Linked DNA regions of Homo sapiens: region 1 is linked to region 2. Evidence: fine-mapped expression QTL. A gene starts in region 2. The other region holds a variant in brackets. All regions are shown on one strand. Distances are between the middles of the regions.

Region 1 (2,894 bases), 73 kb before region 2:
GCCCGCCCACCCGGGGATGCCCTGGAGCTGGCCTACGCCGACCGGCTGGAGGCTGAGATGCAGGAGCTCGCCATCCAGCTGCACAAGGTGAGTGGCTGGGTGGGGGATGGGGGGGCAGGGTGACACCCGTGAGTTGGCTCCATCTCTGACAGAAAAGGTGGGTGCTGTGTGGAGGGGTCAGGTGGATGCAGTGGGGAGAGGGCCCCACACACAGGACAGGGCCGTGGCCAAGGGTCTGGCTTGACCGGCCACCTCCCAGCCTCCCCGCGCCCCCCACCCCCCTGCAGCGCTGCGAGGAGGTAGAGGCCACGCGGGGCCAGGTGTGTCAGGAGCAGGAGCTGCGCGCCGTGGTGGAGAGCTGCCTGCTGGAGCAGGACCGCGCCCGCGAGGACCTCCAGGCCCGGCTGCGGGAGACGTGGGCCCTGGCCCGGGATGCTGCCCTCGTCCTGGACCAGCTGCGGTGAGTGGCTCTGAGCTGCCCTGGGCTGGGTCTCCAGTGGTCAGCCACCTGGCCCCTGGGCCCCCACACATCCTTTCCTCCTGATTTTGTAACTGAGGGGTGGATTTCAGGGTCTGGAGCCACCCCACCCCCATTTCATCAGGCCCTTCCTTCCTGCAGGCAGACCCAGGCAGGAGTTGGGTCCGGGAATCTGCACCGGTCGCCCTCCTGCTCTTTAGTGCAGCCTCATGGGGCACTGGCCCAGCCCATGAGGGCCAGCTGCAAGGACAGGGCTGAGCCCCTCCCTCCCCTAGAAGGTCTGAGGTGGGGGCTCTGCAGCGGCCAGGCCTCTGCTCTCACCAATATTTGTTTCTGTGTCTGGCAGAGCCTGTCAAGCTGAGCTGTCATCTCGAGTGAGGCAGGACCAGCCCCCTGGTGCAGCCACTCTGGGCCTAGCCGTCCCCCCAGCTGGTAAGAGCAGTGGCCTGACTCCGCACTGGGCAGAGGGGAAGGTGGGGGAGCCCTGAAGCCAGGTTTGACCCAGTGGGCTTGGCCTGGTTCTCCGGCCGGCAGCCACTCTCCCAGGTCCCTGTGTGCACATGATCCCAGAGTCCAAGGAAAAGAGGGGGCCCTGGGGACCCAAGCCCACTTCCTCACCTGTGACAGGAAAACTGCCTATCCCCCAGGGGTAGGAGGTACTCGAGAAAGGCCCTGTGCCTTGGCTGGCTGTGCTGTGCTGAGACCGCCAGTGACTTCTGTAGCCTCCAGCCAGGGCCCAGACCCGGGTCCCCACCGGCAGAGCTTTGCCTTCTCTCGGGCTGACCCGGGCCTCGTAGTGTT[TG/G]CTCAGCCTGTGGGAGGAAGGGCACAACAGGGCTTCCCTGCCTCGGCCTTGGGAGGTTGCTTAGACACTGTCAGGCGGGTAGGGAGGTTCTGATCCAAGCAGGTTCTCCTGGTTGCATGGGCTCAGAATAAAGCAGGGCCTGTGGGGACGCAGACCCCCAGCTAACTCGGTCCCTGCACCTGCACCACAGACTCCAAGGGCTGGCAAGCGTCCCTGCAGGCCATGAGCCTCCCCGAGCTCTCGGGAGCCCTGGAGGACCGTGTCCGTGAGATGGGTGAGTCTCCGGGGACCAGACGACTGAGCGCTCCTTTTGTTTCCGAGGGAGGCAAAGGGACCCCTTTCCAGGGAAAGCGGGTTTGTGTCTCTCTACCCCAAGGCTGACCTCGGGGCTGGGGCCATAACGGGTGAGGGGCAGGTCACATCCTGCAGCTGAGACCCCGGGGCAGCACCACCCAGCCCTCCTGAGCCTGGCCGGGAGAGGCTCAAGGTCATCATTCCTCAGGGCAAGCACTGTGCTTAGTGACCCAGAGCCTGGAGAAGCTGCAGGTGCTGAACGGGAAGAAGTGGCGGGAGACCTAGCCTGCGGGCCGGTGAGTGTCTGCCAGCCTGGATCCCGCGTGGTGGGAGCAGCAGGGCCTGTCTGGGCGGCTGCAGGTGTGGGTATGCACCCACCTGTCCCCCTCCCTTCTCACCGGGGCTTTTTCTTTCAGAATCTGACGTTGGGTGATTGGTCCACCCTGAAGCTGTGTGCCAGGGAGTGAGGAGGACAGTGAGCAGGTAGCTGCCATGTGCAGCCCAGGCCCAGTGGGGGCCAGAGGATCAGGCCCCGGGAGCAGCCGGCAGACAGAGGCAAGACGGGGGCTGCGGCCCTGGCTCGGCAGCTCGGGCCAGCACTGAGGCGGGACGAGGGCCTCACCCAGAACCTCGTGGTGAGGCCCAGAGTTCATGGGCTGCCCTGGCCCATACCAGGCAGGGCCCTGGGGGGAAAGTGTATCCATATACACGCACAGGTGCCAACTGAGGTGGGACCTTAGGAATGAGGACTGGGGCACCTGGAAAATGCCATTTTTTGGAAAATAAAATTTAAGAACAGCTAGTGAAGGGCTCAGTTCTGGTCACATGACATGAGGCACTGGCCAATGCAGCAACCCTGACTGCCCTGTCCTCTGCTGTTCAGGGGTGTGTCTTTTGCTCCTGGAGCCCAGACAACTCAAGATAAGGCTTTGAGAGCCAAGAACATCCCCAGCCCGCCGTAGCACAGGGCCTCCCCCGGGACATGCTGCTCTCACACCGAGCTCTGAGATGGAGCTGGGCACACTGCCTCCCTCACCGGGCCAGGCATGGGCTGTGCAAATTTTCTGACGATGCCGCTGGAGTCTTTCCAGATGTGGGGCTGTAGGAGACCACGAGGGATGGCTCTGCTGCTGTCCTTCTGCACAGTAAGCCTGCACTTCTACACCATCCCCTGGAGCTGCTTGCAGACAGTGGGGAATGGTGGGTTTGCAAAGCAAAGCAGGTCAGCCCAGGTGCAGCCAGGGCCACCAGGATCAGGAAGGGGAGCCTGCCCTGAAGGTCTCGGCCCAGACGCCCCAACCTGGCTGATGGGCACAGCAT
Region 2 (2,894 bases):
CTCAGAGAAATCTGGCCTGTGGGTGTCCGGAGACACCCAGGAGACTGAGACATCAGATCAGATGAGACGCCAGGATCTGAGGACCCAATCTAGATGTCCCCATGATGCCCAAGTTCTCTCTCCTCTTCCTTCTCTCCTTTCCACCACAAAGAACCCCACGAGGAGATGGAGGGTGAGACTTGGAGCTAGATGCTCCCAGTCAACACATAACTCATCAATAGAGGCAGAAAGAGAGCTGGGAACAAAGCTACGTGGGAGCCCCACAGCTGGTCCCGGTCCCAACTATGCTTCCATCCAGCTGAGATCTTGGCAGTCACTTCCTCCTTGGTGTCTTACGTCCCTCAGCCATAACACAGAGGCCCGAGTATCGGCTGGGTCCTCTCAGCAAGGACCCTGGCCCCTCCCGATCAACTATAATCGTCTCCTTGGGCCCAGCCCCACTCCTCCAACCCACACACCAAGAGCCTCCGTCCTGATGGGAGGGAAATTGCCCAAACCACTGGCTCGGCCTTCACACCAAGCCACTAAAGAAAGCGAAAGCCGGCCCCCGCGGTGAGGTCAATCTGATGACAATGAGAGTTTTCTAGGCAGAAGCGATGCGCCGGGACCCGCGCTCAGCACCCCGCCCCGCCCTCGGGGTTTCCCCCAGGAGCTCCCCCCTGTTGCAAGGACGGAGCTGAGGTGCCCGGGGCGAAGGGACTGCCCCAAGGTCACCCAAGCCGGGCAGTAGCAGCGCCAGGTACGGCTCGGGCAGGTTCCTCCGGGGCCCCCAGCCACGCCTAGGGATCGGGGCCGTGGGGCCGCGCGAAGGCTCGGGGTAGCAACGAGGCCCGGAGGGGGCCGAGCAGGGCGCCCCGCCCCGAGTCCCCGCCCCCGCGCCCGCCGGGTCCGCGTTCCAGCGCGTGCCTAGCAGTCCGCGCCTGGGGCCGGGCGCTCACCGGACTTCGGAGGGTAGCGATAGGCCGAGTTCGCCTGGATGTCGATGTCCTCCACCCCCGCGATGCGGCGGCTGAGAATGGAGCCCATGGTGCGCGGCGCTGCCGGGCAGAGGGGCCAGGGCCGGAACGGGAGCGGCGACAGCGGCGGGGTCCTCACGCGGACATGGCCCGGACCAGGCCGCACGGACGCTCGTCCACGGCCGCGGAGGCGCCTCGAGCCCCCACCCCCGGCTCGGCCCGGGGACCGACGCCACGGCGGCCCTCCGCCTCCCGGTCCCGGGGCACGTCGGGAAATGGAGTCCTCTCGCCGCCGAAGGCGCCGGGAAGCAGCGCGGGAAGCCCGTCTGGGAACTATCTTTCCCAGGATGCTCCGTTCCCAGGCCCTCTGACGGGTTGACAAGCACTCCGGGACAAACCAAATGGACCTAAATTCAGAGGGAAGGAACCAACCAACCACAGGGCAAATGGTCCTTCCCTCTGCGTTCCAAGCGCTGCACTAACATATTAACTCTTTGGTCATTTCCTCATCTGTTCGCTTACAGACTCTCCTGGAGCCCCAGCGCCTTCCACTTGCCCCCTCTGAAATAGCTCCCTGAGTCGCTGTGGTTCTCCCCACTCCCCTGAGTTTGTCTCCCGCCCCGACCGGCAGAGGGCGTAGCTGCACCTGCCACCCGGAGCCCACTTGCAGGGTGTGCACGGAAGAAGTGAAGCACCTGCTTTGGCCTTGGCCAGAATTTGAGGACTACCATTTGGGGACTTCTGAACCAGGTGTGGTTCTGAGAGCTGTATAGGCATCAGCCCGTTTTACAGATGAGGAAGCTGGGATCCAGGGGGTTAAGCAACCTCCGGCCCCCTGACAAGGCTGAGGCCCGGTGCAGTGGCTCACCTGTAATCCCGATACTTTGGCCCCACGTCTGGACCAATTAGTTTAAAGACATAATTTCACAGCCTCCACGGAAGGCAGTAGACTCTCCCACATTTTACACACAGGGAAACTGAGGCACAGAGGAGAGAGAGCCGCATGAAATGGCGCTGCGGGCAAGATTGCAAGAATCGCTTTCAGAATGAAAACCTCGCAGTGTGCAAGGTGTTCCCTGGCTTTTGAGTCACACACAGCTCTGCAAATAGATCGCTTTTTACCTACTTTTCAGTTGAGGAACTTGGATTCTGAGCAGAGTGATTTCCCAAGTCAAGCCTGCTGTACCAAGAAAGCAGCTAGGGAGGGCAAGGCAGACTGAGTCTCCAATGGTCAATTCACCACAGTCCATGTGGAAATGCTTCTTATACCCTTCCAGAGACCACAGTCCAGGATCCAGTCTTCCTCTTTTTTTTTAAATTGTTCTGTCGCGCAGTCTGGAGAGAAGTGGCACAATCTCAGCTCACTACAGCCTTTGCCTCCCGTGTTCAAGCGATTCTCGTGCCTCAGCCTCCCCAGTAGCTGGGATTACAGGCATGCACCATCACACCCAGCCAATTTTTGCATTTTTAGTAGAGACAGGGTTTCACCATGTTAGCCAGGCTGGTCTTGAACTCCCGTCCTCAAGTGATCCGCCTGCCTTGGCCTCCCAAAGTGTTGGGATTAGAGATGAGCCACTGCACCTGGCCTCAGACTTCCTCTTGTCAGGGGAACTTGGGAAGCCAAATGAGTACGGCAGCCAAGAGACTTGTGTGATTATGATGCAGGTCCAGGTCTTGGAGGAGCCTGATTAAATCTCCCTGCCCCACAACCAAGATCCACACTTACTGAGCATTATGTGCCAGGCATCATGCTGAGGGCTCTGCACATATCCTCTCATATAATTCTTTGATGTTGGCCGGGCGCAGTGGCTCACACCTGTAATCCTAACACTTTGGGAGGCCGAGGCAGGCAGATAGCCTGCACCCAGGAGTTCCAGAACAGACTGGGCAACATGTCATGACCCTGTCTCTACCAAAAATGTAAAAATTAGCCAGGTG

The links. PIP is the estimated chance that this variant, and not a neighbour inherited with it, causes the effect. A credible set is the group of variants that fine-mapping cannot tell apart.
Region 1: its variant is the best candidate, but not a certain one, in a credible set for the expression of MGRN1 in whole blood (TOPMed, PIP 0.72).

What each region holds. Positions count from the first base shown.
Region 1 is chr16:4,695,993-4,698,886 of GRCh38, reverse strand. ANKS3 (ankyrin repeat and sterile alpha motif domain containing 3) reads left to right here. Exons shown (of 18, transcript NM_133450.4): 13 at 1-87; 14 at 288-460; 15 at 825-910; 16 at 1,471-1,554; 17 at 1,783-1,870; 18 at 1,991-2,376. The coding sequence ends at 1,859. Among named protein-coding and RNA genes, the nearest start is that of NUDT16L1, 3.9 kb to the right of the region's middle. The variant TG/G (reference allele first, on the strand shown) is at 1,280.
Region 2 is chr16:4,623,093-4,625,986 of GRCh38, reverse strand. It overlaps MGRN1 (mahogunin ring finger 1), which reads right to left and starts at 1,161. Exons shown (of 17, transcript NM_015246.4): 1 at 939-1,161. The coding sequence starts at 1,026. RefSeq lists silencers at 670-899, 1,140-1,319 and enhancers at 372-901, 1,085-1,379, 902-1,432, 1,390-1,499.